Regions from separate parts of the Homo sapiens genome. Here all the other regions are linked to region 1. Evidence: fine-mapped expression QTL. A gene starts in region 1. Each other region holds a variant in brackets. All regions are shown on one strand. Distances are between the middles of the regions.

The links. PIP is the estimated chance that this variant, and not a neighbour inherited with it, causes the effect.
Region 2: its variant is fine-mapped to the expression of ANKLE2 in whole blood (TOPMed, PIP above 0.99).
Region 3: its variant is fine-mapped to the expression of ANKLE2 in whole blood (TOPMed, PIP above 0.99).
Region 4: its variant is fine-mapped to the expression of ANKLE2 in whole blood (TOPMed, PIP above 0.99).
Region 5: its variant is fine-mapped to the expression of ANKLE2 in whole blood (INTERVAL, PIP above 0.99).
Region 6: its variant is fine-mapped to the expression of ANKLE2 in whole blood (TOPMed, PIP 0.93).
Region 7: its variant is fine-mapped to the expression of ANKLE2 in whole blood (TOPMed, PIP 0.99).

What each region holds. Positions count from the first base shown.
Region 1 is chr12:132,759,606-132,763,992 of GRCh38, reverse strand. It overlaps ANKLE2 (ankyrin repeat and LEM domain containing 2), which reads left to right and starts at 2,161. Exons shown (of 13, transcript NM_015114.3): 1 at 2,161-2,375. The coding sequence starts at 2,195. RefSeq lists enhancers at 1,493-1,592, 1,947-2,815 and silencers at 1,743-2,032, 2,123-2,712.
Region 2 is chr12:132,653,525-132,657,849 of GRCh38, reverse strand. POLE (DNA polymerase epsilon, catalytic subunit) reads left to right here. Exons shown (of 49, transcript NM_006231.4): 28 at 421-501; 29 at 592-714. Among named protein-coding and RNA genes, the nearest start is that of POLE, 32 kb to the left of the region's middle. The variant C/G (reference allele first, on the strand shown) is at 1,568.
Region 3 is chr12:132,671,610-132,675,996 of GRCh38, reverse strand. POLE (DNA polymerase epsilon, catalytic subunit) reads left to right here. Exons shown (of 49, transcript NM_006231.4): 11 at 177-262; 12 at 480-599; 13 at 2,290-2,422; 14 at 2,720-2,833; 15 at 3,158-3,370; 16 at 3,675-3,782. Among named protein-coding and RNA genes, the nearest start is that of POLE, 14 kb to the left of the region's middle. The variant G/C (reference allele first, on the strand shown) is at 1,849.
Region 4 is chr12:132,736,538-132,740,924 of GRCh38, reverse strand. ANKLE2 (ankyrin repeat and LEM domain containing 2) reads left to right here. Exons shown (of 13, transcript NM_015114.3): 8 at 3,860-4,032. Among named protein-coding and RNA genes, the nearest start is that of ANKLE2, 23 kb to the left of the region's middle. The variant G/A (reference allele first, on the strand shown) is at 2,584.
Region 5 is chr12:132,718,013-132,722,399 of GRCh38, reverse strand. PGAM5 (PGAM family member 5, mitochondrial serine/threonine protein phosphatase) reads right to left here. Exons shown (of 6, transcript NM_001170543.2): 5 at 4,280-4,387; 6 at 1-1,722. The coding sequence ends at 1,572. Among named protein-coding and RNA genes, the nearest start is that of PGAM5, 9.4 kb to the right of the region's middle. The variant T/C (reference allele first, on the strand shown) is at 1,804.
Region 6 is chr12:132,613,835-132,618,221 of GRCh38, reverse strand. No RefSeq gene overlaps it. Among named protein-coding and RNA genes, the nearest start is that of P2RX2, 2.7 kb to the left of the region's middle. The variant T/C (reference allele first, on the strand shown) is at 2,257.
Region 7 is chr12:132,723,185-132,727,498 of GRCh38, reverse strand. ANKLE2 (ankyrin repeat and LEM domain containing 2) reads left to right here. Exons shown (of 13, transcript NM_015114.3): 13 at 56-1,996. The coding sequence ends at 257. It also overlaps the pseudogene RNA5SP379. Among named protein-coding and RNA genes, the nearest start is that of PGAM5, 14 kb to the right of the region's middle. The variant A/G (reference allele first, on the strand shown) is at 1,789.

The DNA.
Region 1 (4,387 bases):
CAAGGCGTGTGCCACCACGTTCAGCTAATTTTTTAAATTTTTAGCACAGACAGCGTCTCGCCATATTGCTCAGGCTGGTCTCCACCTCCTGGGCTCAAGCGATCCTCCTGTCTCGACCTCCCAAAGTGCTGGGATTACAGGTGTGAGCCACCGTGCCCAGCCTTCTTGGGCCTCTTCTAAGGGAAGTATATAAGGCTCTGTCCCATGACCTATCACCTCCCACAAGCCCCACATCCTAATACCATCACCTTGGGGGTTAGGGTTTCTTTTTTTTTTTGAGACAGAGTCTCGCTCTGTCACCCAGGCTGGAGTGCAGTGGCGCGATCTTGGCTCACTGCAAGCTCCGCCTCCCGGGTTCACACCATTCTCTTGCCTCAGCCTCCCGAGTAGCTGGGACTACAGGTGCCTTCCAGCATGCCCGGCTAATTTTTTGTATTTTTTAGTAGAGACTGGGTTTCACCGTGTTAGCCAGGATGGTCTCGATCTCCTGACCTCGTGATCTGCCCGCCTCGGCCTCCCAAAGTGCTGGGATTACAGGCGTGAGCCACCACGCCCGGCCAAGGGGGGTTAGGGTTTCAACATACGAACGCTGGGGACAGACACTCAGAATACAGCAGAGGTGTACGTTTAACTTTGAAAGAAACTGCCTCACTATTTTCCAAGGTGGTTAACTCAGTGTTTGCTCTTGCCAGCAAAATTTGATATTGCCAATTTTTAAATTTTAGCCATTCTGGTGGATTTCAAGCAGCATCTCATCGTGGTTTGAATTTCCATTTCATCCATCTTCAAAATTACTGACCCTTTCTTCTGTAGTGCCCAACCAACCATTAGTACCATCCAATGATATTTTTTAAGAGATGGGGTCTTGCTATGTTGGTCAGGCTGGCGTGCAGTGGCTATTCACAGGCGAGATCACGCTCATGGCAGCCTCGAACTCCCGGACTGAAACTACCATCACCCCTCACGCTCCAGAGTTGCTGAGACTACAGACCTGAGCCACCTCGCTCAGATCAATTATGTTTTTAACCAAGGATATCAATTATATTTTTCAGGTCTTTCATTTTCATTTAATAATATCTAAATTAGGCGGGGCGCGGTGGCTCACGCCTGTAATCCCAGCACTTTGGGAGGCCGAGGCTGGTGGATCACTTGACATCAAGAATTCGAGACCAGTCTGGCCAACATGAGGAAACCCCGTCTCTACTAAACATGCAAAAATTAGCCAGGCGTGGTGGTGGGCACCTGTAATCCCAGCTACTTGGGAGGCTGAGGCAGGAGAATCGCTTGAGCCCAGGAGGCGGAGGCTGCAGTGAGCCGAGATCGCGCCACTGCACTTCAGCCTGGGCGACAGAGCAAGACACCGCATCAAAAAATAAATAAAACATCTAAATTACATACAGTAAAATCCTCCTTCCCTTTTTCGAGACAGGGTCTCACTATTAGGTTGGTGCAAAAGTAATTGCGGCTTTTACCATGACTTTCAAAATATTTGCCCGGGCTGGTCTCGAGCTCCCGGGCCGTGGGGATCCTCCCGCCTCGCCTCCCAAGGCGCTGGGACTCCGGACGCAGCCGCCGCGCCCGGCAAAATCCGCGCTTTCAACTGCGCGTCAGGGCCCCTTGGTGAAGGAGCGGGAAGCTCCGCCGGTCTCCATAGCGCCGGCGGCCTGTTCTGCGGGTTCGCGGGGGAGTGAGAGGCGCTTCCTCACTCCTGCTCCAGGACGGGACGACGGCCGCAAACAGTACTCGGGCTCGGAGCACACGAACCCGGAGGCCGCTTCGTTCTCGGAGACGCACAGCGCCCCACGGACGCCAGGCCGGGGCCGGGAGGCGCGAAGAAGCGCCGCCCCGCGCCCGGCCCCGCCCTGGTGGCCTCCCCGGGCCCCAGCCCCGGCCCCCGCCAGCACATTGCGCTCCCCGCGCCTCGCCGGTCCCAGGACCCCGCGTCGGGCTGCCCGCGCCCCGCCTGCCGCGCCCGCCCGTCCGCTCGCCCGTTCCCGCCCGCTTGGGTCCCAGGGCCGGGGCCGCGCCCTCGCCGGGCCTCCGCGAGCGGGGCCGCCGTCCGTGTCCCCCGCGCCGCCCCGGCCGCCTCGAGCGCGGCGCCGTCAGGCAGGGCGCGGGCAGCCCGGCGCGGGGTCCTGGGACGGGCGCGGCGCGGGGCGCGGGCTTCTCGGCGGCTGCGGCCCGGGCGGCGGCGATGCTGTGGCCGCGGCTGGCGGCGGCCGAGTGGGCGGCGCTGGCCTGGGAGCTGCTGGGCGCCTCGGTGCTGCTGATCGCTGTGCGGTGGCTGGTGCGGCGGCTGGGCCCGCGGCCGGGAGGTCTGGGCCGCAGCGGGACCCCAGTTCCTCCGCCAAGCGCGGCCGCCGCCCCCGCCTCAGGTAAGGCCCAGGCGGTCGCTGGGTCCCCGCACCCTGGCCCCTTCCCCGCCCCGACGCCCTCCTCGGGCCTGGGGTCCCGGCCGCGCCCCTGGAGCCGGCAGCAGTTGGGCGAGGCGGCCGGGGAAACCAGGGCCGGTCGGGAAAGGCCATTCCGGCCGCGGAAAGGGCAGTTGCGGGGACTTGGCTTCCCGGGCCGGGGGCGGAGGGGCCACGCCGGGTTCGGGGGTGAGAGCTTTCCCGGGCCCTGGAGCAGCCTCCGGGGAAGGCGGCGGGGGCCCGGCGAGGCGTTAGCGGAGACTCTTGCTGCGGTCTCTCGAGACCTGGGGAGGGATGGCCCAAAGGAGGGCGGCGCGGGGAGGAAACCCCTGGGTCCCGGATGTGTTTGGAACGTGAAGCCATTGCGGTTACTGGTCATGGAACATAAGGCAGAGACGGAAAAGGCAAATGTAACTCAGGGGTTTGGGGCCAGAGGAAGAGGGAGAAGGTGGCCATTTATTGCTTTGCGGTAGACTGTCGGGTCTGGGTGATGTGGAGATCAGAGGTGGGTTTTGGTCGTTTTAAGTTTGAGGTAACTGATACAGTGAACTGTGTATTTCAGCTCCATCCCCTTTTCCTGGCATACAACTCTTGAAATCCCGGGAACCTCCAAAGTGATGTCTTTTGTAGGCTGAGTGGACTGGTGGCCGGCAGCCCCTAGGGAGCTTCTGGATGGGGCTGGTCGCAGGAAAGACCAAGGCAGGGTTAGAGGTTCTGGGGACTTTCAGCCCCACCCCCAACCTCTGGGGAGGAGAGAGGGGTGAAGGTTGCGTTGATCACCAGTGGCTGATGAATCACGCCTGTGAAATGAAGTTCCTGTAAAAACCCAAAAGGGCTGGGTTCAGGGAGCTTCCAGATAGTACGTGGGGGTTCCTGGAGGCGGTGCCCAGAGAGGCCCTGAATTTCCAAGCGCTTCCCCCCGGTTTTACGTCACGCATCTCTTCACCTGTATTCTTTGTAATCCTTTATACTCTGCTGGTAAGTGTAAGTAAAACATGTCTGTGAGTTCGGGAGCCACTCTAGCAAATTACCGCAACCTGAGGAGGTCACCGGGTTACGCCCCGTCGGTCCCAAGCGCAGGTCAAACAACCTGGGCACTGGAAGTGGGGGGCAGTCTTGCGGGGCTGAGCCGTTAACCTGTGGGGGTCTGCTGGTATCTCCAGGAAGACGCTGTCAGAATAGATGACTGAATTAGGATGACAGACGACACCCAGCCTGTGTCCACTGCAGAACTGACGACCTGCGTGATTTGTGGGGAGAAAATCCCCACATACCTGGTGTCCGAAGCATGTTGCAAGACTAGTGGGAGAAACTGAGTTTGTTTTTACTCTAAATTGTCAGACTGTTAGTCACTGCGGAGAGGTGCTTTCTGATGATTGAGTGGGGATTCCTGTCCAATTGTGTGAGTTTGTGTCTCGGCCCTACCACTTTTTTTTTTTTTTTTTTTTGAAATGTAGTCTCGCCCTGTGGCCCAGGCTGGAGTGCAGTGGCGCGATCTCGGCTCACTGCAAGCTCCGCCTCCCGGGTTCAAGCGATTCTCCTGCATCAGCCTCCCGAGTAGCTGGGATTACAGGCGCCTGCCACCACGCCCGGCTAATTTTTGTATTTTTAATAGAGACGGGGTTTCACCATGTTGGCCAGGATGGTCTCGAATTCCTGACCTCAGGTGATCCACCTGCCTCAGCTTCCCAAAATGCTGGGATTACAGGTGTGAGCCATCGCACCGGGCCCTACCACTTATTGCTGTGGGCTTAACCTGTTTTCAGCCTGCTCTTTTAGGAATGGGGATGATAGTGATACCTGGTTAGGCTTTTTTGGGAGTTGGGTAAGTGCAGCACTTGGTATGTGTTAAGCACCTCTGAGTGCTGTTACTGTCACCAGCGGCATCATCCAGGCAGAGCTGCGGACAAGGTGGCGGCGGGTGAGGGTGGTGTTTTGAGAATGGCTGAAATAAAAAAATACTGATTTATTTTATA
Region 2 (4,325 bases), 110 kb after region 1:
CTCTACTCTTAAAAGTTTACAAGGAAAGCTAGACAGAGCAGAATATGTCTGAGTTGGATTATGTTTTTTGTCTGGCGTCTTCACTCTTGACTTCCTCCTTTCTGATAAGTAATAGGTGAGCACCTAATAACCTTTTAGGGCAAAACTGAAAACATGAAGTGCCTGGGGCCCTTTAGCTGTTCTATTGGATGGACTAAGGCCAGGGGTGTTGGCTCAGCCACCTACTAGCTCTGTGATCTAGAGGAGTCAGTGAAGCTCCCTGCCTTGGTGTCCTCTGTTGTGCAATGGGCACCTTTCATCATAGAGTTTCTGAGAGGATTAAATAAGACACAGTGGTTAGCCCTGTGCTCAGCATGAAGTGAGCCCCACTCTTGGCTGCTGCCACCTGCTGTTCTCTGTGCCCGTTTCCTGCACATGCAGATTCTGGATTGGGACTACTACATTGAGCGGCTGGGAAGCGCCATCCAGAAGATCATCACCATCCCTGCGGCCCTGCAGCAGGTAAGGGCGGGGTCAGTGGCACGGGCTGTGGGGCTAAAAACTGTGCAGTTAGACAAGGGTCTCTCTCTGATGGGTGTTGGCCTCACACAGGTAAAGAACCCAGTGCCACGTGTCAAACACCCCGACTGGCTGCACAAAAAACTGCTGGAGAAGAATGATGTCTACAAGCAGAAGAAGATCAGTGAGCTCTTCACCCTGGAGGGCAGGAGACAGGTGACGGTGGGGCCCCAAGGCTGGGCTGGGCGGGATCCTTGTGACACACAGGACTCCAGGCTTCTTGCGCTGCTGTGTGTGCTGTAGTGAAGCTTCTGTTCAAGCATCGAAAATGGACTTTTTCTGAAAATGTGCCCATTGGCACTTTACTCTCTAACTCTGAGTGTCACTCTTTTGTTAATAGGACACCATTGTGAGGCTGAGGTGAGGGCAAGGAACTGTCTCCTTATGTGAAAATATTAGGGTGCACTACTTAGACTCAGTGCCTTGGGCAAATCACTGTCTCTTGAAGCCCCAGTTTTCTGAATGTGAAATGAATATCTTCCCTATGGAAACACTTAGAAACACAGGACACAGTGTAATAAAAGGTACAGTGAAAGTCAGAAGAGCAAAAGGAAAATTCTTAAATGCTGAAAATTAAAAGTAAGCTATAAATCAGAGCAGTATACAAACTCACATGACAAGAACAAGGTTCTTTGACCAGGTGCGGTGGCTCACACCTGTAATCCCAGCACTTTGGGAGGCCTAGGTGGGCAGACCACAAGGTCAGGAGATGGAGACAATCCTGGCTAACACAGTGAAACCCCATCTCTACTAAAAATACAAAAAATTAGCCAGGCGTAGTGGTGGGCGCCTGTAGTCCTAGCTACTCGGGAGGCTGAGGCAGGAGAACAGCGTGAACCCGGGAGGCGGAGCTTGCAGTGAGCCGAGATCACGCCACTGCACTCCCCTGGGCGACAGAGCGAGACTCCGTCTCAAAAAAAAAAAAAGAAAAAGGTTCTGAGATGGATTGGATTTTAAAATTTAACTGTCTTATTTGTAAGAGTTATATATGTATTCTTTCCCCTGCCCC[C/G]CAAGACGGAGTCTTGCTCTATTGCCCAGGCAGGAGTGCAGTGGCACAATGCAGCTTCTGCCTCCTGGGTTTGGCTCACTGCAGCTTCTGCCTCCTGGGTTTAAGCAGTTCTCCTGCCTCAGCCTCTAGTGTAGCTGGGATTATAGGCACACACCACCATGCCTAGCTAATTTTTATTTTTTTAATTTTTTTCTGCCTCAGCCTCTAGTGTAGCTGGGATTATAGGCACGCACCACCATGCCTAGCTAATTTTTATTTTTTTAATTTTTTTTTTAAATTTTTAGTAGAGACGGGGTTTCACCATGTTGGCCAGGCTGGTCTCAAACTCCTGACCTCAGGTGAATGCACCCGCCTTGGCCTCGCAAAGTGCTGGAAATACAGCACTGCGCCCAGTGGCTTATGGGCCAGTATAACAATTTCAAGAGTTATATTGAAAAGATAGGACGCAGGAAAAGCAAAAGGAGTAAAAAATACGTATACCAGGTAAATGTTAACCAAAAGAAAGCTGATGTGGCTGTATTAATACCAGACAAAATACTCTTTAGGCCAAAAGTATTAGGAAACATAAGGACTATTGTTACATAATACTGAAAGTCACAATTCTCTGGAAATATATACTAATTGTAACAATGTAGCCTCACATTAAATAATGTAAACATTTACCTAATTATAAGAAGAATTTACCTCCAATCAGTTTGGGAGATGTTAACATCCCTCCCTCAATTGATAGTTGGAGCAGACCAAAAATCAGCAAAAATATGTTTGGAATGACACAATCAACTAACTAGATTTAGTCACTAGCTATAATACATTTAGTGAACAAATGTAGTCTTGCACTAAAATTAGAGAATACCTATCCTTTTCAAGAATACATAAAATAATGACCATATATATACCACAGAGTAAGCTGCAACCAATTCTAGATAACTTAAATACAGACCATGTTTGGAAATTTAAGAAAAAAAAAACACATTTATAACTTGTGGATCAAAAAAGTCATAGAACTTAGACAATACTTGGAACTGAATGTAAATACAAATGCTATTAAAATTTGTAGTATGCAGTTAAACAGGACTTGTATACGCATTTATATATCTAAATGCATGTATTAGTAAAGAAAAACAAATAGAAAATTAAGTTTCCAACTGAAAAAGTTAGAGAACAACAGATCCATCAGAGGAAGTAGACAGAAGTTATAAAGAGTTATAAAGGTAACCAGGCATGGTGGTGCACACCTATAGTCCTAGCTACTCGGAAGGCTGAGAGGCAGGAGGATTGCTTGAGCCCAGGAATTTGAGGTTGTAGTGGGCTATGATGGCACCTGTGAATAGGCACTTCACCCCAGCCTGGGCAACACAGGGAGAACCCAACTCAAGAAAGAAAAGAAAGAGGTTACAAAATTGAGCCAGAATGAGTGAAACAAACAATACAACCAAAATGTTGTTCTTTGAAAAGACTTAGGAAAATAGTCACATCTTTTTCTTTTCTTTTGAGACAGGGTCTCATTGTGTCACCCAGGCTGGAGTACAGTGGCGCAGTCATGGCTCACTGCAGCCTTGACCTCCCAGGCTCAATTGATCCACCTGCCTCAGCCTCCTGCATAGCTGGGACTATAGGCGCACACCACCACATCCAGCTAATTTTTGTAATTTTTTGTAGAGACAAGGTTTTGTCATGTTGTCCTGGCTGGTCACATCTTTTTCAGGACAGAGTTTTTTATTTTAATGAAAACAGACATCATTATAGATATAGTAAAGCCTAAAAAAATGGAAGGATTCCCATTTTCTGCTAAACAGTTGGAAAACATAGATGGAACGGACAGTATCCTCAAGTTATGCACTGACCTAAGAAGTAATAAAAACCTGAATAGAACTTTAACCATTACAGAAATTGACACTTAAAAAGAAACAGGCCAGGCGCAGTGGCTCACACCTGTAATCCCAGCTCTCAGGGAGGCAGAGGCGGGAGGATAGCTTGAGCCCAGGAGTTCGAGACCTGCCTGGGCAATATAGCGAGACCCCGTTCTCCACAAAAAGAAAAAAAAAAGAGACGAAAAAAAATAAGTGTAAAAGAAACATCAAACCCAAATGATTTTTAAGAGAAAAAGGAAAAAAAAAACCCTTAGCTCATTTGGTAACCTTGGCAATCCTTGTTACTTTGGTAACATAATTGAAAACAGGAAAGGAAAGTTACGGGCCATGAACAATAGATGAAAAAATATCAACATACATGAACAATAACAATATGACCAACTAGGACTTATGCTGGGAATAGCAAGCACTGTTTAATTTTAGAATTTGCCAGGTTAGTTTTTCTTGGGAGAAATCCACTAATTCATCATTAAAGGAGAAGGCTCGTAAGATCATCTCCAATAGATGCAGAAACAACATGCGGTAAAACTTTAACATCTGCTCATGTTAAAGTTTGAACAATCAAAATCAGAATAGATGAGATGTTTCTTAACCTGATAAAGTGTTCTTGAAACCTAACAGCAGACCTCATACTTAACCACAAAACACTGGAAGCATTGAAGTAAGGAGTAAGAAATGGATGCCTGTTAACCACTGCTTCTGTTCAAAACAGTTTGGAGATCCTAGCCAGCATAATTAAACCAGAAAAAGAATTAAGGATTGAAAAGGGAGACATCAACTTATTATTTACAGGCGATGTAATTTGTTAACAGAAAATGTAAGGAAACCTAGATTTTGTGTTAACTTATATGTATTTCAGCAACAATTAGATACCAAGGTAAGATATA
Region 3 (4,387 bases), 88 kb after region 1:
AGCTCCATGAGCTTTGTTCTCAGGGTATGACCGTCTTTTCTGCCAGAGACGGGCGGAGGGGCGGGGCAGGAATAAGGGCCAACATGAGGCTGCTGCTTCTGAACTTTGGGAGAGGAATTTGGAATAGCTTGAAGAAGAGAAAGAGCAGACCTCTGACTGCTGTGACTTGGGTTCAGGCTCATCTGATCCAAAGGTGGTTTGAACACGTCCAGGAGACCAAACCCACCATCATGGTCACCTACAACGGGGACTTTTTTGACTGGTGAGTCTGTGTCTTCTCTATGAGTAACTGGGCAGCATTTGAGAGGGAGGGCGTTGCGTGGTGCAGGGGCGCTTCCCATGTCGACTTAGGAGGTGGCTCCTGGGTTCACTCTGCACCTCCCGTGTCTGGGTTCCTCCCTGGGTCTGAGGGAGGAATGGAGAAAGGGGCATTAGAGCCTGACCTGCCCACTTGCTTGTCTGTCCTCTTTCCAACCCAGGCCATTTGTGGAGGCCCGGGCAGCAGTCCACGGTCTGAGCATGCAGCAGGAGATAGGCTTCCAGAAGGACAGCCAGGGGGAGTACAAGGCGCCCCAGTGCATCCACATGGACTGCCTCAGGTAGGGGCCACAGAGCAGCATGGCTCCTCACTGCTGTCCGTGAGCGAGATCTGAAGGCCTCTTGCAGACTGTGCTGTCACCACATCTCATGGGAGGAGGGTGGCCTCCGAGAGGCCGTTTCAGGTCACCCAAGAGTATGGCAGCTGCAACCCTGCCAGGGCCCGGGATGTGCTGTCTTTGACTGTTGACTGACAATTCATCAGTGACCAGGCACATTGAGCATCAGCCTCTGGGGTGGGGAAGCCGCTGGAAAGACGCACTCAGCTGACAGGTCCCAGACCTAGGACCTCATGGAGCTGCTCTGCCCAGGCAAGGTTGGGATGTGGCAGCCCGGCTGCCTCACAGGACAAGCCTCACGGGACAACCACAGATTCCATATGAGCTAGGGTGGGAGGCAGCTCAGAGCTTCGGAGAGTCACGGCGTTCGGGGGCTCTGACATGACTGGTTGGGAAGACAGGTGGATGTGGAAATGCCAACAGAAGGAGGCTGGAAGGGAAGGAAGGGAAGGGAGGGAGGAAAGGAGGGAAGGGAAGGAAGGGAAGGGAGGGAGGGAAGGAAGGGAAGGGAGGGAGGGAAGGAAGGGAATGGAGGGGCCTCCACGGCCTCTGTATTCTGCACAGTGCCACTGGGGTGCTTGCAGCCTGAATGCGTTTCTGTTTAGCTCTGATGCTCAGCACTTGGCTTGGAGAGGGAGGCCAGGAGGCTGGGGCCGGTTTAGCGTGTGACGGTGTGACAGTCCTGATCCAAGGCAGGGAGTGAGGGTTGTGAGGATTCAGGATCTGTCATGTGGGGCAGGGGGAGGCCCAGGGATGCTGGTTCTTAGGGAGGGGTTGGCACCTGGGGTTTTTGTGCCATCCGTGGAGACAGGGAATGGGTAGAGAAGGGGCTTGAGGCAGGAGGTGACCCTGCTACCGATATGCTAGCCTGGAAGCCCCACCCATATGGGGGCCCTGAAGACCACCATGAGGCTTGGTTTGGGCTCGCACTGTAGATTGGGACTCACTGGGTTGCGGGTGGGTCTTGGTGAAAGCTGGGGTAGTGGATGAACTGAAGGCAAGAGGTAAAGTGAGAGAAGAAGGCCACAGGGTGGAGGCTGCGGGGGGTGGAGACCGGACATGACCCCTGGACAGCTGCTCCAGGGAATGCGTCTGTAGGGAGGAGGTAGAGACAGGTTCCGGGTAGAGTGTGGGGGGCCTTCTTTTCTTAATTTTTATTTTTTATTTATTTTTTAAATTTTTATTCTTCTTG[G/C]CATCTGATCACATCTTGCCTTCTATTAAAGGAGGGTGGGCTTGAGTGTTTCCGTGCTGAAGGGACAGTGTGAGGAGAGAAGATCAGTGTGGTTGATAGAACTAGGCCCCAGGGGTGCAGACCTGAGGTCTGGGGAGAGGCCCAAGGAGGTGGGGCGCCCGTCGGAGAGGCCACAAACTCTGCTGAGGATGGGAGGAAGGCGAGGGCCGGAAGGACCAGTCCTGGTGCTTCCTTGTGTTGTGGATAGGTCTGTGAGATTAACTAGATCCTGATGAAGGGTTTTCACAAGGTGTCTACACCATGTGGGGCCTTGGTGTGAGGCTCCTGGGTGCCTGTTAGGAACTTGCATCTGTCTGTGTGGTGCCCAGTTTTGCCAGTTCTCAGGGGTTCCCGGGCTGCATGTTAGAATCATCCTGGCTTCTGTTCTCATTCTCCTTCCAGGTGGGTGAAGAGGGACAGTTACCTTCCTGTGGGCAGTCATAATCTCAAGGCGGCCGCCAAGGCCAAGCTAGGCTATGATCCCGTGGAGCTAGACCCGGAGGACATGTGCCGGATGGCCACGGAGCAGCCCCAGGCACGTAAGCCACATCCCGGCTGCCCCTGCTGCCGTGTGCACGCATCCAGATGGCCACGGAGCAGCCCCAGGCATGTGAGCCACATCCCGGCTCCCCCTGCTGCCGTGTGCACGCATGTATGCCAGCCCGCTCCACCCAGCAGGCTGTGTCTCCGGGACACACGTGTTTTGTCCTGTGCCGGTCTCCTTACTGTGTGTGCGGCAGGCTGGTCAGGCCAGGCTTTGCTTTCTGTGCTTCACACTTGACCCTGGGCTCTTGATTTTTGATGGCCCTGCTCTCTGGCGTTCTCTCCTCAGACTCTGGCCACGTATTCTGTGTCAGATGCTGTCGCCACTTACTACCTGTACATGAAGTACGTCCACCCATTCATCTTTGCTCTGTGCACCATTATTCCCATGGAGCCCGACGAGGTGAGCATTATCTGTCCTGTCGGCACCCTGGCCTCCTCAGCCCTTGCCCCATTCCAAATGCACTGGAGCTGAATGGAGGTGGATGTCCCAGGAGTGCTGGCACCAGAGGCGGCAGTAGAATTCTGGTGTGTGACGTCAGGGATGTCCTTTGGGAATTCTCTGGCCCTGGTGTGAGGAAGAAACCACAGGAGGCAGAATTTGCAGCCATTTACCACGAGGTTTTCTCTCCTTTCACACTGAAGTTCAGCTTAGGTTCCTGGACTTTGCCTGCAAGTCAGGGCCTTTGGTGTTGCTTTTGGCTGGAAGCCTTGGTTTCTCTTGCAGGTGCTGCGGAAGGGCTCTGGCACTCTGTGTGAGGCCTTGCTGATGGTGCAGGCCTTCCACGCCAACATCATCTTCCCCAACAAGCAAGAGCAGGAGTTCAATAAGCTGACGGACGACGGACACGTGCTGGACTCTGAGACCTACGTCGGGGGCCACGTGGAGGCCCTCGAGTCTGGGGTTTTCCGCAGCGATATCCCTTGCCGGTTTAGGATGGTGTGCTTCTTCCCTGGGATTCAGATTCTTCCCACTCTTGTGCTGTGGTAGGACCCAGAAGCTGCAGGGGCTGAAATAAAGCCCCTTCTCCCCATCCTGTCCCACGGCCCCTCACCGGGTGTGGCTTCTCTGGCCCAGCACCCCCCGGGGGCTTCTTTAGGGCAGTGCACTGCAGATTGTGCACATGAGTCCTTCCGGAGCTTTCTCGGGCACAACCTGCCACGTGCAGCCACAGCGTCAAACCTGAGGCAGGCTAGTGTGGGTGTGTTTCCCCTCTGACCCCGTCGTCTCACTGTTGTGCTAGAATCCTGCCGCCTTTGACTTCCTGCTGCAGCGGGTTGAGAAGACCTTGCGCCACGCCCTTGAGGAAGAGGAGAAAGTGCCTGTGGAGCAAGTCACCAACTTTGAAGAGGTAACCATCAGGGAGGCAGGAAGAGCCAGTCTGTGTTTGGCGCCTTCTTCACAGACCACGTCTTTCAGCAGCACGTTTATTGTGCACCTGCTGCGTGTGGTGCTGTGGACGGATGACACAGGGTCTCTGGTGGGACAGGGCAGTCATGGTTGTGACGTGTGATGCTGTCACAAGGTCGGAGGGCTTCATGAGAGGTGGGGTGTGAGCTGCTCCTGAAATGCAGTAACATGGAAGGTGGGTCCTGGTGGGATGTATCCCGTGTCCTGTTTTAAAGCATTAGGACTTTATTTTATAGGCACTGGGGAGCCATTGGAGGTTTTAAATTTTATTTACTTTTTGTTGTTGAGACTTAAAAATGACAGTAAATTCCTACAAATGACAGGATTAGTGACTGTAAAATCTGTTTACATAATGGTTAGAAAGCACACTTACAAAGTGTGTTATGTGACTGGAGAGGGAGACACCAGTTCTTCTCTGATCCCTGTTCCTCAGGACATGGCACATCTCAGGTCTTTTTTTTTTTTTTTTTTTTTTTTCCCTTTTTGAGATGGAGTCTCGCTGTTGTTGGCCTGGGCTGGAGTGCAATGGCATGAGTTTGGCTCACT
Region 4 (4,387 bases), 23 kb after region 1:
CCTCCTGTACTCCTGGTGCACGCCCAGGCTCCTGTCTTGGCTCCGGGACACTCCCTCCCCACTCGCCTCCGGGACGTTCCCTCCCCACTCGCCTCTGGGAGAGAGGCCTTTGCTTTCTGGGCCGCCCTCTTCTAGTCAGCAGCTTCTAGTTGTTGGCCCCTGTGCCTTGCGGTTTGTAGGTGCCAGGCATGTGAAAACGGCTGGTTTCAGGGATGGCTTTTCCCTGCCATCTTCCTCTGTTTTCAGTGAATTTTGGAAGATGACACTTCTAGAAGCGCCTCTTCTTTGCCATCTTAGCTCGAAGTCTGGAGCTTCTGCTTGCTGGTGAGATTGAAGCAGACGCTGAGGTCCTTTCACCCACCTGCCTGCTTTCCTCTCTCTCGGATTCCATTCCTATCCAAAACTCTGTCTCTATTTAAAGCAGGGTCCGCAAATGACTGCTTTTAAAAATAAAATTTTATCAGCATAAAGCTGTCACCACCATTTGCACACTGTCCGGGTTCTTTCCCAGCACACAGTGACTTGTGGCCTACTGAGCCTAATTATTTACTGTCTGACATTTTATAGAAGTTTACCAAGCGTGATCTAAGGTGTGAAGAGCCTCTGCTTGTCCCCTGATCTGTTCCCGTCCTAGGTATAATTTATTAATTACACTTCTTCAGTGTGTGTAGCTGTGCACAGGAAATGAATCCTGCATGCTGTTAGCGGCGAGAGTTCCTCCTCAGGGCCGTTGAGGCGTCGCTGCAGAGGCCCAGCCGGAACCTTCAGAGGCCCTGGGAACACACAGCTATGTTGCCAGAACATCCCTGAAGAGCCGAGAGTCTGCTCCGGATTTTCAAACCACACTGTCAGAAATGCTTTGCAACGCTGACATTAAGCATTGCTTTGTGATGGTATTTAGGAAGCAATTCTGTCTGAGAGATCCTTGCCTATGTGTGACAGTAAAACACTGTCGCCTCTAAGATCTGCCCCAGCAGCTGTTTGCTGAGGAGAAGGCAGCTCTGTGAGATCCATGTTCCTGTGGGCTGAGCTACACGGCACCTCCAGAGCTCCTACACCTCCTTCCTGGTCCTTCTGAGGCTCATGCGAAGCCCAGGCATGGTCAGCATCTGTGGTCACGCTGGGGCCTCGGTCACGTTGTAGCTTCACATGCCACAGAGCCTGCTACAGGGCTGGCTGCATCCTGCATCCCACCCTTCCCGTCACTCAGAGAGAGACCCACGCTTGTGTGAAGATGAGGAAGGACTCTAAAGTGTTATGAGAGACAAATAGGATCAGAAAGCCAGGCACAAAACTGTCCAGAGACCGTGAGTCCCATCTGTAGACAGAAATTGTTAAAAGGGACTCAAATCAATATGCCAAAAAAGTAAACATTAGTATTTTATGAGTAAAGTGTAGGTAAATTGTACCGTATACCTACCATGCACCCTATACTGTACATACTGTATGTCTTCTTTTCCTGTGCCACTGAAAGAGGGAAAAAACTGCCAATTAACCTGTAAAATGCCAACATACATAGGATGCATCCAAATATAAGATAGTAATATGTAAGACAGAGTATTTGAATTGCCCTAATTTTCAGTATGGAAAATTAGTACTCTTGAATGGAAATTCTTCAGTACCTTCAGTACTCTTGAATGGAAATTGTCGTACTTTTTCTTAACTTTCATTTTAGGTTCAGGGGTAAGTGTGCAGGTTTGTTATATAGGTAACCTGCATGTCACCGGGGTTTGGGGTACGGATTATTTCACCTGGTGATCAGTATAGTACCCAGGAGGTAGTTTTTCCATCCTCTCCCTCCTCCTCACTCCCTCCACCCTCAACCAGGCCCTGCTGACTTCTTGTTCCTTCTTTGTGTCCATGTGTGCTCAGCGTTTGGCTCCCACTCATAAGTGAGAGCCATGTTTGGTTTTCTTGCCTGTGTCAGTTCCCTTAGGGTCATGGCCTCCAGCTCCAGCCATGTTACTTCAGAGGACATGATCTTGTTCTTAATATCCTGTGGTATATATGTACCACATTTTCTTTATCCAGTTGACCGTTGATGGGCATACAGCACTTTTACAATTAGAAAAAAATTAAAAGCATAAAAACTATGATAAGCAGCCGGGTGCGGTGGCTCATGCCTGTAATCCCAGCACTGTGGGAGGCCGAGGCAGGCGGATCACAAGGTCAGGAGATCGAGACCATCCTGGCTAACACGGTGAAACCCCGTCTCTACTAAAAATACAAAAAATTAGCCAGGTGTGGTGGTGGGCACCTGTAGTCCCAGCTACTTGGGAGGCCGAGGCAGGAGAATGGTGTGAACCCGGGAGGTGGAGCTTGCAGTGAGCCGAGATCACACCACCGCACTCCAGCCTGGGTGACAGAGCGAGACTCTGTTTCCAAAAAAAAAAAAAACTATGAAACTATGATAAGCCTTTAACATAAGAAATTCCCAGGCATTCCAGAGTAGCATGATTGACTGTAAAGGAAGCCTCTTGACTCTGGGTCTCCAGGAGCTGGGTTTGAAAGCAGGACGAGGTGGTGTGTGGCCTCCGTGCAACCTACAGAACCTCACGACACTATCCTATATGGCTTGACTGC[G/A]CTGTCCCGTGGGACCTGAAGACACTACTCTTCCTTGTGCTTTTTCCATACTCACATCCAAGTGCCGTGTGATTCCAGATCTGTTGAGAGATGCGTATTCAGTGATGCAAATTGTAAAGTACAAGAGAAGCAGGACTGAGAAGCGAGGAGGCCGGGCACAGCGGCCCACACCTGTGATAAACTACAAGAGAAGCAGGATTGAGAAGCAGGATTGAGAAGCGAGGAGGCCGGGCACAGCAGCCCACACCTGTGATAAACTACAAGAGAAGCAGGACTGAGAAGCGAGGAGGCTGGGCACAGCGGCCCACACCTGTAATCCCAGAACTTTTGGAGGTGGAGGTGGAATGATCACTTGCATCCAGCAGTTCGAGACCAGCCTGGGCAACAGAGCAAGACCCCATCTCTACAAAAAGTAAAAATTAGCCGGGTGTGGTGGCGCATGCCTGTGGTCCCAGCTACTCAAGAGGCTGAGGTGGGAGGATCCCTTGAGCCTGGGAGTTCGAGGCTGCAGTGAGCCATGATTGCACCACAGCACTCCAGCCTGGGTGACAGAATGAGACTCTGTCTGAAACTAAGAGGAGAAAAAAAGGAGAGAAGGAATAAAATATTACTTTTTTTTGTTTTTTTGAGACAGATTCTCACTCTGTCGCTCAGGCTGGAGTGCAGTGGCGTGATCTCGGCTCACTGCAACCTCCACCTCCCAGGTTCAAGTGATTCTCCTGCCTCAGCCTCATGAGTAGCTGGGGTTACAGGCACCCACCACCACACCCGGCTAATTTTTGTATTTTTAGTAGAGATGGGGTTTCATCATGTTGGCCAGGCTGGTCTTGAACTTCTGACCTCAGGTGATCCACACACCTCAGCCTTCCAAAGTGGTAGGATTACAGGCGTGAGCCACCGCACCCGGCTGGAATGAAATATAACATTTTTAAAATGTATTAAGCTCCTACTGTGTGCTACTCTTATTCACTCAGGTCCGACCCCTTAGTCCTTTAACTACCTGGGGCTTCCTTTTCTTTTCTTTCTTTTCTTGTAGCAGTGGAGGAAAATGAGGCTGGTTAAGTGAAGTGAGCTCTGAGACCTTGTGTGACTTTGTTTCCATTGTATCCATTTGCATTAAGTGCAGTGAGCTCTGGCGGAAACCACCCTCTGCCCCGTCTGTTGGATCCATTTGCAGAGGCCTTGGCAAGGGCTCGCGTGATCCCCGTCCTGCTCACCCAGGCCTGACCTGCGGAGGGGGCGGAAGCCTGCAGCCAGTGCCTGTCTCCTCCCTCAGGCCACTACTACGTGCCCCTCCTGAGAGCGGAAGAGACTTCTTCTCCAGTCATCGGGGAGCTGTGGTCCCCAGACCAGACGGCTGAGGCCTCTCACGTCAGCCGCTATGGAGGCAGCCCCAGAGACCCGGTACTGACCCTGAGAGCCTTCGCAGGGCCCCTGAGTCCAGCCAAGGTGAGCTGCTGTAGAAGCTTCTGGAAGTGGTGCCTGGCTGTCCCTATACTGTGCTGCTGGGTGTTCCAGCCTGTTGCCTTGTGCGTGGTCTCAGGGACCATGTCCTGTGGAGCCCCAAGGTTGTCCTCATCTCAAACCATCCACCAGTGATTGGTGATGAGAACGTTTGTCAGAGAAATGTGTGTTCTTGGCTCTGTGGCTTGCTTACCAGGGCCGATGTGCTGGGAGCCACTGTCTCAACAAAGCAGACATTCCCTGGGCCAGCCCCGTCCTGTGCGCGTGTCGCCCTGTTCTTGCTGTGTTGATGGCCCGTCCTAGGCACCTTGCTGGTGTAGCGAGGCTGCCCGTTGTGACT
Region 5 (4,387 bases), 42 kb after region 1:
GGGCGCCTATAATCCCAGCTACTTGGGAGGCTGAGGCAGGAGAATCGTTTGAACCCAGGAGGCAGAGGTTGCAGTGAGCCGAGATCGCGCCACTGCACTCCAGCCTGGGTGACAGAGCGAGACTCCGTCTCCAAAAAAAAAAAAACAAAAAAAAAACCACACATTTAATCCCTAAGCATAAAAGATTAACTGGAGGCAAACTAAGATTGAGCTGTCAATCTGAAGTATTTTACTCAATAAGGGTAACCCCCTATTGGGCTGTCACTAGCGTGTCACCTCAGCCGAGACCAGCATGAAGGTCAAAGGCGAAGCCACCTCTGTAGACCCACCTCACCTGCCCCTCCCCCATCCAGTCACCTGTGCAGCTGGCTAGTCCCTCGGCCCCTAAAGACCTAATCAAGTTGGTGAGTTCAGACCCAACATCATCAGGAAATCTGTAAATTTGGAGAAACTTGTTTTCAAAGCAAAAACCCAGATGAAGAAAAAAAAATTTTTTAGGCCAGGCACGATGGCTCACACCTTTAATCCCAGCACTTTGGGAGGCCAAGGTGGGTGAATCACCTGAGGTTGGGAGTTCGAGACCAGCCTGAACAATTCTATATTGGTTTCTCCATGAAACCCTGTCTTTACTAAAAATACAAAAAATTAGCCAGGTATGGTGGTGGGCGACTGTAATCCCAGCTACTCGGGAGCTGAGGCAGGAGAATCACTTGAACCCAGGAGGCAGAGGTTGCGGTGAGCCGAGATCGCACCACTGCACTCCAGCCTGGGCAACAAGAGTGAAACTCCGTTTCAAAAGAAAAAATTGCTTTAAGTCTCCCTCGCTTGCCCAGGCTGGAGTGCAGTGACACAATCACAGCTCACTGCAGCCTCCAGCTCCCGGGCCCAAGTGATCCACCCACCTCAGCCTCCCAAGTAGCTGGGACTCTAGATGCCCACGACACACCCAGCTAAGTTCTGTATTTTTAGTAGAGACAGGGTCTCGCTATGTTGCCTTGTCCAGGCTGGTCTTGAACTCCTGAGCTCAAGTGATCCTCCCACCCTGGCCTCCTGAGTAGCTGGGAATACAGGTGTGAGCCACTGTGCCCAGCCAGAAAATCTTTAATTGACAAATATTTAAGGGACAAGAGGGTTTTAAGAAATTAAAAGGATGTATGAAGTGAAGTGAGTTGTGAACAGAACCTGGGTGCCCTCCTCATCCACGTGCCTCAGTCGCCCTCGTGCCTGACCGGCTTTGCCAATGGAGCCTGGACCCTCAGCACGGGTCAGCTGTGGGTGCGAACATGGTGGTCTGGGTCAGGCCTCTTTCAAGTCCCCACAACAGGCCTGACTTGTGCGTGAGACGCTTTCACCTTAAACCCCACGCCATCCTGGGGGTTCATGGTCAGGTATAAAACCCTGCAGAGAAGTCAGGCTGTCTGATCCCAACTCTCCCCTTCTCAGCCTGGTCACAAGTCAGTTCCCAGATGCAGCATTGCAGGTTTCTACTTTCCGCCGGTCTCCTTGGGAACAAAACGTTAAGTGTGTGCGGCCTGTGCAGGGAGGACAGAGGGAAGGAGAGGCCGGAGCCCTCAGGATCGAGTGATCTTGTCGGGAGGCATGAACCCCGTGTCCCCGAGGGTCCTGAGCGCAACTCGGCCGTTGGGTCGGATCACCAGGTGGGTGATGCTGCCATTATTGAGGGAGAGCCGGAGCCAGCCTTCAGGAGGAAACTGCAGTGCTCTGGGGAGAGAGAGAGAGAGAGAAAGAGCACGTTAGAGCCAGGGGGCTCTGTCCTTAAAACGGGCTGAGCTAGGCCGGGCA[T/C]GGTGGCTCACACCTGTAATCCCAGCACTTTGGGAGGCCAGGCGGGTGGATCACAAGGTCAGGAGATCGAGACCATCCCAGCTAACACGGTGAAACCCCATCTCTACTAAAAATACAAAAAATTAGCTGGGCGTGATAGCAGGCACCTGTAGTCCCAGCTACTTGGGAGGCTGAGGCAGAAGAATGGCGTGAACCCGGGAGGCGGAGCTTGCAGTGAGCTGAGATCGCGCCACTGCACTCCAGCCTGGGTGACAGAGCGAGATTCTGTCTAAAAAAAAAAAAACGGGCTGGGCTAGAGCCAGGGGACTCTGTCCTTAAAAGAGGCTGGGCCAGGCTGTGCCAGGGGGCTCTGTTCTACAAACAGAGGCTGAGCCCCTCAGAAGTCTCAGAGCAGCCTCAGGGCCGGGGTACACATCAGCCGAGCCGCTCCTGTCTTCAGTCGGGGCTTCTCGGGGAAGATCTGGCTGGGATCGACGTGAATCGATGACTGGGATCGACATGAATGGAGCCATCACACTTGGGGACCTGCCCTCTTTAGGACAGGGGCCCAACCCCAACTCAAGATTTGCACAGATCAGAACAACGCTGACTTCTTACGAGGAAACACAGTTTAATTTCTGCTTTTCCCATATAAAAGCAGGGAGCAGCCAGTTAGTGCAACAGGTCCCTTTCTGGGAAAGCAAAGAACGGAGATGGGATCTACCCGCCGTGGCATCTTCATGCACTTCTTAGGCACAATTCGCATTTGCGGAAAAGCTCGGAGTTGCCTTCATCGCCTCTGAGCCACCCACCGCCCTGTCTCAGTGGGCCGCATGGCCACCCTCACGCTGCTTCCCGAGCCTCCTCAGGGCTGCCTGGCGGCACCGGCCGGAACAGCACAGCCATATTCTCGTGTCCAGGTGCACGTGCCTGGCCCTCACCACTGTGTGGACTCAGGTCGGCTCCACTCTCCCGCCCCGGTTATTTCTGTGCATTTTTAGCATTTGTGTCACCTCGGGGTGACTGTGTCATGGACACACAAGGTGGTGGTGGCAGCATAGAAGCCACCCATATGGCTCATTCACAAGCACAGACAGGAGGCAACGAACGACTCACAGCAAACAGGTACTCACTTAGCCTGAGGCCACACCACCCGGAGGCTCCAACCCCCAGAAAAGCTCTATCTGGTCTGGAGCCAAGCTTGAGAATCTCGGCCCGTACATCCTCGACTTTCTGGGAGCTGCTGCTCTTGACCATGGTGCTCCCAGCAGCCCCAGCCCTGGTGACAGGCCCAGGTGACAGACGGGCAGAGACCAGGGCCCAGCCTCACACGGCATCACTGACCAGTGCCGTCCTGTCCTCCCACCACAGGACTCGTCACACTCAAGAGGGCCCCCTCAGCTGCGGAGCCCACACACACATTTCCTAATGGATCCAGAGAAGAGGCAAATTTGTTTCAAATTTGCATTTAGTGAGATTTGGCCAACCCTTCTGACTGTTTCAGGCATGTAACCGTAGAGCTGGCCCTGCCCCCCAAGGGGCCCTCTAACGTGGCTGCAGCCCTGGAGCTCCTTAAAGAAGTGGCTGATTGCAGGGTGGTGGCAGGGAAAACGCAACCTGAACCCGGATCATTCTGTGGTGCTGAGAGTGGGGCACCAGAGCAGGTTGAGGGACAAGGGCCCCCCGAGGGAGCAGCCCGAGCAGCAACGTGACTCAGCTGTGGCCTCGACCCAGAGGGGAGCGGACACCCCGAGCCGTCACGCTGGCACACGGGTGGGAGCGCCCACAGATCAGCAAGTGAAAGAGGTCAGGACCCCAGAAGCACAAAATCCCCAGCGGACAACAGCGGCGGGATGCTGCCAGTGGGATCCAGCCGGAGGCAGAAGGTGGTTGGTCGAGTTTGAGGGGAAACAGGACGTTCAATTACAAAGGGAAAACAACCAGGGCAGTGCGGACGCCCAGCATGCACCGTACCCAGGACCCCCCACCCAGCACGCACCCCACCCAGGACACCCCCACCCAGCACGCACCCCACCCAGGACCCCCCACCCAGCACGCACCCCACCCAGGACACCCCCACCCAGCACGCACCCCACCCAGGACACCCCCACCCAGCACGCACCCCACCCAGGACACCCCCACCCAGCACGCACCCCACCCAGGACCCCCCACCCAGCACACACCCCACCCAGGACACCCCCACCCAGCACGCACCCCACTCAGGACCCCCCACCCAGCACGCACCCCACCCAGGACACCACAGGGGTCCCTCCCTGTCTGCACCACCCTTGCCCAAAACAGCCTTATGAGAAGCTCCAAGTAACACGCCACCTACCGCGTAACTGACTAGGACTCGCGGGAAGTGGACGCCCGGGGGCTGGTGAGGCCTGACTAGGGTGGCATCGGCAGTGGAGGAGGGTCTCGCTCGGCTTCTTCCTCATGCTTTTCTCTAAGTCTGAAATTATTTTAGACCACGCCCAGCCCAGCAGCTGCCTACCTGCACACGATGTAGCGGATGACGTTGGCGTGACAGATGAAGATCTCGTAACTGTCCTCCTCCTGCCTGGCATCTGCGCGGTGGATGTAGTTCCGGAAGGCGGCCTCG
Region 6 (4,387 bases), 150 kb after region 1:
AACTTTTCGAACCTCCACCCCACCCACATTATTTTGAAGCAAATCCCAAGCATCACAGTTTTTCACAAAATAATTTTAAAATAGTTTATTATGATAAAATCAGCATAGCATGTAATTAACTATTTTAAAGTAAACAATTCAGTGACATTCACAACATTGTGCAACCACCACCGCCTCTGTTTCGTCCCCAAACACTTTCCCCACCCCAAAATAAAACTCCCATCCATTAAGCAGTCACGACCCGTTCCACACTCCTCCCATGCCCTGGCAACCACTGGTCGCTTTTCTGTCTCAGTGAATGGACTTGCCTGTTCTGGATATTTCATATCAAGGAAATGCAATATTTGTTTCTGGGTTAATGCCTTTTCTGTCTGGCTTCATTCACTGAGCATGTTTTCAAGGTTCATCCACATTGTAGCATGTGTCAGGGCATCACCCCTTCTTATGGCCAGGAGAAATGTCTAGGCTATCCAAAGAAGGAATTTAGATTGCTTTCAAACTAACTCTGTGAATAGTGCTGTTATAAACACTGGTGCATAAGTATTTGTTTGAACTGTTAAATTAACTCAATTAACAGGCTGCCTCTGTGCCTTGAGTTTCTAGGTAACAACAAACTGCAACCTAATGTACCACAGAAACAAGCTAAAAGCTTAACCTATGAGTATATTTTGGAACAAATAGCTGGGTCTCAGCCAGTCACAGGCTGCTAACTGATCTGATCATGCCATATAAGGCAAACATTTCAAGCAGTAACAAAATCAAGCTAATTGTGATTTTTTTTTTTTTGTATCTCACTTCTGTGTTCTATCTATAAAAACTTCCTGCCCACATTACAGAGTGGAGCTCTCGAACCTCCCCCATTGGTTCTGAGTGCTGCCCAATTCATGAGTTGTGTTTTGCTCAATTAAACTCTGTTGGCTGGGCACAGTGGCTCATACCTGTAATCCCAGCACTTTGGGAGGCCAACATGGGTGGATCACTTGAGATCAGGGGTTCGAGACCAGCCTGGCCAACATGGCGAAACCTCGTCTCCACTAAAAACACAAAAGTTAGCCAGGTGTTGTGGCATCTGTAATCTCAGCTACTCGGGAGGCTGAGGCAGGAGAATCACTGGAATCTGGGAGGTGGAGGTTGCAGTGAACTGAGATTGCACCACTGCACTCCAGCCTGCATGACAGAGGGAGACTCTGTCACACACACACACACACACACACACACACACACACACACACACAAACTCTTAAATTTAATTTGTCCAAAGTTTTTGTTTTAACAGTTTGGTGTCAGAAGTGGGATCTGAAGTAGACCTCCAGCCACCCCCTAGGAGCACTGAATGCTCAGTAGGGCCTGTGTGCCTGCTGATCTCTCAAAGCATCTAGAGTCATAGGTGAGTTCTCTCTGCTGGATTTGTGCTCTATGACCATGTGTTTTGAGCCCTCTACTTTGAGCAATTCTTTTTTTTTTTGAGATGGAGTCTCACTCTGTTGCCCAGGCTGGAGTGCGGTGGCGTGATCTCAGCTCACTGCAACCTCCGCCTCCCAGATTCAAGCAATTATCCTGTCTCAGCCTCCCAAGTAGCTGGGATTACAGGCACATGCCACCGCGCCCGGCTAATTTTTTTGTATTTTAGTGGAGACGGGGTTTCACTGTGTTGCCTGGGCTGGTCTCAAACTCCTGAGCTCAGGCAATCCACCTGCCTTGGCCTCCCAAAGTGCTGGGATTACAGGCATGAGCCACGGCGCCCGGCCTTGAGCAATTCTTAGACCGGAATGGGTCCAGGATTGAATTGGATCCAAAACTTAACTCTATTGTATCCAGTTAGAGGCCTTGAGTAGGTCCCTTTTGGCTTGGGTTTGTCTGAATCCAAGGAGTCTGCGTGCCGCCTTCTGGGACGTTTGCTAATTATGTGTGTAAGAACTATGGACCCAGAACTTGTGCACATTTTAGAAAAATCGGCTAACCCCAAACTCAAAAAGACCCCTCCAGATTCTTGGAACCGTACACCTTTCGGAGACCTTAAGGTGAAGCTAACCAGGGAAGTTTTCCCCAGAAGCAGACGGGATCCTAAATGTGGACAGCTTTTCCAAGATCATGGGTTGAGACTTCTCTGCCATCATGACAGCCTTAGCCTCCCCCTGGCCCCTTATTTCCTGCTGTCTGAATCTTTTCCTTTTCATTACAGGAAAATCCACAGCACCATAATGTGTGGATGGCGTCAGCTAAGGCTTACGCTCTAGGAAAAACCCAGAGTGGTAG[T/C]TGGGTTTGTGGGTTAATGTCAAAAGCCAGGAAACTACATCAATCCCTGTCATTTTTCACGATGACGGTCACTCTGGAACTCCCAGGGGAGAGTGGAGAGCGTCCCCATGTGTCCCAGGGGAGACTGGAGAGTGTCCCCATGTGTCCCAGGGAAGAGTGGAGAGAGTCCTCGTGTGTCCCAGGGAAGACTAGAGAGCGTCCCCGTGTGTCCCGGGGGAGAGTGGACAGCCCATATGTCCCAGGGGAGAGTATCCCCGTGTGTCCCAGGGAAGAGTGGAGAGCGTCCCCGTGTGTCCCGGGAGAGAATGGACAGTGTCCCCGTGTGTCCCAGGGGAGAGTGGACAGTGTCCCCCTGTGTCCCGGGGGAGAGTGGGGAGCGTCCCCATGTGTCCCAGGGAAGAGTGTTCCCGTCCCTGTGTCCCAGGGGAGAGTGGAGAGCATTCCCGTGTCCCAGGGGAGAGTGGGGAGTGTCCCCGTCCCTGTGTCCCTAGGAAGAGTGGACAAACACACTCTCCTTTATGTTCCAGACACCGCTGCTATCACTTTCATATACCCGCTGAAACGGTGTTCTGACCTTTCCAATTAATAATCCAAACACTGCTCATATGTAAAGCGTGCCTGAACGATGCCTTCAGAAGGTAGATGAGGCTCCAGGCATCACATACTCAAGACCTGGGAGTTCTCTCTGTGGGTGGGAGACACGGCATGTGTGATGTCACTGGATTGAGTCCAGTGAGGTCCCTTTCCATTAACTGTGGTTACACACCCTCACAGCACACTGTAAAGGGAAAAGCTTCATACCGGAGCTTTTCCGCTGGACCTGCTTCGGGAGCTGTACTGACATGTGGGTGAAAACGTGTCACTGACTTCTGCTCAGATGCCACCAGGTGGCGCCCTTTTCCAGCCCCCGAGAGCTTCTGCTGGGTCTGTGGAGAATCCGCTGTTGGGCCTCCTCACTGGTTTGAATCTTGCAATTTGGTCCGGCTCAGTCCTGCCTTCCAAGTAGCTTCCCCTGACAGTTCCCACCCAGGATACCTCCCATAATCGGAGGCCAAAGCAGTCAACAACCAAAATTAGCACCAGCCTTGAAATAAATGAAGTTAGTTTTCACTGAAGAAAGTTTCCATTAGAATTCTTGGTGGTGGTGAGGTGCTGGTTGTGTGGAATTCTAACCTAATTAGTAAATTGGGGAACATCTTGGGCTTTGTGGCCAACCCGACCTCCCAGGATTTTTTTTCCCCCCAGAACTCCATGAGTTCACTCCCAGGGATTTAGACGGGTGGAAGTCACGCTCTGAAAGGTGGATTACTAGAAATCACACAGCTTTAGGTCTGTTAAAGGATATCTGCAAAACAACAAACAAACAAACAAAAACCCAGTTAACAACTTTCTTCCTAAAAATTATTTTTTATTGTAATAAAACATTTAACATGAGACCCACCCTTTTAACAACATTTTAATTGAACAATACAGTATTGTTAACTACAGGTGTGATGTTGTATAGCAGACCTGGAACATACTCATTTTGCATAACTGAAACTGAAACTTTATCCCTGTTCAGGAGCAATTCCCTTTTACCCTCTCTGCAGCCTCTGGCAACCACCATTCTACTCTCCACTTCTATGAGTTTGACAACATAATTTTTTTTCATAATTTTTTTTGAGATAGGATCTCACTCTGTTGCCCAGGCTGGAGTGCAGTGGTGCAATCCTAGCTCACTGCAGCCTTGACCTCCGGGCTCAAGTGACCCTCCCACCTCAGCCTCCTGAGTAGTTGGGACCACAGGCACGTGCCACCACGCTAGGCTACTTTTTCCATTTTCTGTAGAGACAGGGTCTCACTGGGTTACCCATCAGCCTGGTCTCGAACTCCTGGGCTCAACTGATCTTGCCTTGGCCTCCAAAAGTTCTGGAATTATAGGCACGAGCCACTGTGCTCAAGTGACAACATAATTCTTTTTTTTTTTTTGAGATAGTATTTGACTCTGTCACCCAGGCTGGAGTGTGGTGGTACGATCTTGGCTCACTGCAACCTCCACCTCCTGGGTTCAAGCGATACTCTTGCCTCAGCCTCCTGAGTAGCTGAGACTCCAGGTGTAAGACACCATGCCTGGCTAATTTTTTATTTATTT
Region 7 (4,314 bases), 36 kb after region 1:
TGTTCATCTCCGGGCCTGTGCCCGTCTGCTAACAGTTCTTTCTTGCTTTCCGCAGTTGGCCCAGTCCCGCGGTGAAAGGAAGGTTCAAGTCTCAGCTGCCAGATCTCAGTGGCCCTCACAGCTACAGTCCGGGGAGAAACAGCGTGGCTGGAAGCAACCCCGCAAAGCCAGGCCTGGGCAGTCCTGGGCGCTACAGCCCCGTGCACGGGAGCCAGCTCCGCAGGATGGCGCGCCTGGCTGAGCTTGCCGCCCTGTAGGCTTGGCGCTGGGCTCTCGGTTTGTTCTTCATTTTTAAAGAAGGAAGGGTCATATGTTTATTGCTAAACTGTCAAAAAGGAATATATTCTGATTAAATTATTACTCCTCACTTTGAGGGTGTGAGAATTTTAGAAGATTTAAATGTTCTATATAACACTTAGATTTCTGATATTTTGGAAGAAGTTAGAAGTTAATGAAAGCAAACTCAGTTACCAATTTTCTGGAAAATATCCATGTGGTAATGGTAGACTTTTTAGGTGGCAATTTCTAGGTCTGAAATATAGCAGAGGAAAGGGCGCTGAGGCAGTTGCAGGCAGGCAGCCCTGTACTTACCCTGTACTCACCTCATCCGACAGACGCTGTGGATGAGGAGGGGCTTGGCGGAGGCGTGAGCACCGATGTCCCTTTGATAACCTGCACTCACCAAGATGAACTATTTGCCGCCCTGTCTTTTCCTGGGTTGGGGGGTGGCATCTGATGGTGGCAGAGTGCCTGTTGGTTCGCCCGTGGGTCTCATGGTTCAGACAGAGGGAGGTGGACGGCAGGGATCAGGGAGCCAGGAGCGCGCCTCAGACTTGCAGCAACCATTGTGATTTGGGTTGTTCGGAATATTTAAATTACTGATCAGAAGATGAAAGTAGCTTTTCTCTTGGGAAGTCTTGCAGCCCGTGGGAGTGATACCAGGAGCAACACAGAGCTCAGCAGCGGCGCCAAGGTGTTCCCTGTTTCCTCAGCACGTGAGCCTTCACCGCCTGCTTCATTCAGGAGCCAGTGCAGCAGTAATACAGTCTATACATTGTTCTGTTTTCAAATTTATCCTGAGGCTTTGTTGAGCATAAATGATTATACGATAAAGGTATCCGTTATTTTGGAACTCATTTCAGTTGGGATCTCCTGTATGCAGAGTGTTGCATTTAGAGGTTTGAGTCCCATCTTGGTTTCTTGCCGTGCTGACTGTAGCCTTCACCTTGACTTGAATGAAGGTCTGTGGTTGGAATGTGTGAGGAGCCGCTGAGGTGTTCAGGAGGTGCTGCCTGGAGGTCGGTTTCTTCCTGGGTGTTACGGGCAACTGCTCACACAGTTGTTTCTCTGTGAACATTTCCAGTGTTTAATCCAAAATGAAAACCCACCAATGCTTTTGCTAACTTCAGTGCCTTTTATAAATCATTTTTAAATTTCCTGAACTTGCTTTTTGAGGATATACAGGGATATTAAGTAGACGCAGGATTGTTTTTGTTTGTAAAAATTCTGAATTGAAACTTTGTTTTAAAAAAAGGCTTCTTTCTTTCATATGACAAGAGATAGGTCAGGAATATTGGAATCAAGATTTAAATGTTAAAATTCGATTTTGTTACACAGGGTGTGTTCATTTGTTTTGTAGCAGACAAGATCTAGATCCCAGACAGAAACAACACATGCTATTCTAAAAAGCCGCATTTTAAAAGGCACCTTGGTTCTCAAAAGAAATCAGAATATGGATATTCGTAGTGATGATCTGTTTTCTCTAAAATCTTACCATATTGTCTGTAT[A/G]TGGTTGTAAATTCAAATGGAAAGTAAAACGTTTTGGCCCTGATTTTGTATGTGGACCACTGCTCCTGATTTCCCAGGTCTTAGGCCACCTTTGACTGTTTCTCCGTTTGTTTGTGGGCAGCGATTCCAGTCCCAACGGAGGCATTCTCGTGTGTCCCGGGGGGTTATGTCCTTCACAAAACACTTAATGAAATGAATTACTTCAAAACCGCGTGGTAATAATTGCAAGCTTTCGGAAGGATCCCTCACTTGTGCCCAGGCGCACGGCACTGTTTTGGTTGGACGGCCATCAACCTGGGTGCCCTCAGATTCGCTCGCTGTTTTTAAGCCCCTTTCTTGACTCAGTTGTGAAAGATTTTCTGGCATCCGTTAAAAGAGCACAGATTTTACCGTTGCTCTTGGCAGTGGGAAACCTTGGTGACATTAACAGTTGCTGTGGTGGCTTTGGTTGGAAAGTGCCCTTCTCCAGCGTGGTGGCAGCTGTGAGGGAGGCGCCCGGTGAGTCTGCTGCTCGTTTCTGGGTAAAAGCAGCCATGGTGCTGCGTACCAGCCGTGGGAGTGCCAGCGGCGCCATGGCAGGGACCACAGCCAGGTCCTCCAGAGCCGTGTGGATGTTTCCAGAAGCCTGCAGAGTTTTCCCAGGGAAGGGCTGATGGAAACCCTCATTGGGGCCCGGCTGTGCGTGCGGGGTGCAGGCGTGTTTGTCGTGGTTGGAAACCCTGTGACTGCTCCAGCTGCAGATTCCCGCCCGTGCTCCCTCCTTAGAAAAGGCTTTGGGATAAACGTCGGCATGGCGACCCCTGGCAGCTGGCCGCCATCTGGTGGCATTGCCTTTCCCACCAGTCTCATTGAGGCTTCTGGTGTGCAGTTTTCACTTTGGCCAGACAGAGGCTATCGTTACTAACATGTGAGAAGTCTTCAGTCTGTCCCAAACCAGGGGACGGTTTCCATCGTTGACGTCGCTGGGCCCCTGTAACTCACCCAGTCCAGACACCCTCAGCCTTCCCCTCATGCGGCTCCCTCCACGCAGGCGTTCACAACATGCACACTGAAGATCCCTGGGGGCTGCCCTGGTATGGGTCAGCTCCCCACTCCCCAGTCTCCTGCCTGCCCCTCCCTGCCTTCTCCCCCGCCATACCTGCCCTGAGTCCAGCATTCAGAAATTAGACCCCCACCAGCTACCAGCCAAACCGGGAGCCATCCTCACTTTGCTAATCTACGTCCGTCCCACATGCAGAAGACTGGAAAAGGCCATTTAAGGAAGAACCACTTTGAACAGCAGGTATTTTAGAAGGGAAGTCTACCAGGCACAGTGGCTCATGTGCTTTGGGATGCCGAGGTGGGCGGATCACTTGAGGCCAGGAGCTCGAGACCAGTCTAGCCAGCATAGTGAAACCCATCTCTACCACAAATGCAAAAATGAGCCAGGTGCAGTGACGCACACCTGTAGAACGAGCCACTTGGGAGGCTGAGACATGAGAATCGCTTGAGCCTGGAAAGCGGAGGTTGTAGTGAGCCGAGACTGTGGCACCGCACTCCAACCCAGGTGACAGAGCCAGAGTATGTCTCAAAAAAAAAGTTTGCTGGGAATTTACTCTAGAAAAAGAAACTAAAAATTATTTAAAGTTTCATATTCAAGAAACTTAGGTAATCATCTATGGGCATACTACCCCGAGCACACCCAGTCTCTCTGATCTTGGCAGATAAGCAGGGCCTGGTTAGGACTTGGAGTGGAGGCTGCCTGGGAATACCAAGGGCTGTAGACTTGGTTATCATTGCTGTACGCTCTTAAAGAATTAGTCACACACTGAGTTTGTGGCTTAACTTTTCAAAATCCTTGACTTCAGATTTGACTTAAGCAGCATAATCAGGTTTTCTTTCCTTTTGGGTTTTGTTTGTTTTTTTGCAGAAGGATTTGAAGACTCTGGGTCACTGGTTTCTTGTGATCCATTGAAAACTGCTCGTGGTCTCCCATCCACTTCCCCCTTTAGACCAGGTAGTCTGTCCAGATCTTCACATGAGTGCGACTCACGTCTATGACGTGAGCGATGGGAGTGGCCGTGGGCTGCGCAGGGCATTGGGGCCAGCTGATGTGTGGTCATTCCACTTTGTGATGAGCTTTGCTGCCCAGCAAACCTGCGCCTGCTCTGAGCATTGCCTCAGTGCCAGGCGTGCTGGCGCTGCTCCCACCTCCAAGCTTTCCCACTTTACAGAGGAGCCGGGGCCCTAAGCAGAACAAAGGCTTAGCCCTGCAGCGCTGCCCCATCCCTGGAGGCCCAGCGTTGGGGCTGTGGCGTGGGCGCCCTGTGTAGCTGACTTAGAGCATCCCGGACTGCTTCCTCGCCAGCCTTGCTCCCGTCTGAGGTCAAACGTGAGCGTGCCTGGTATTTGTTTTTGAAGTTGGCGCGTCCCTGGCTTATCAAACTATTTCTAGACAGTGGTGTATGGTTGCTGTGGCTGTTGTCTCCACAACCATTGGTCAGCCTTGCCGTCCTGGTCAGGGATTTGGAAAGGGCCCAGGCCACT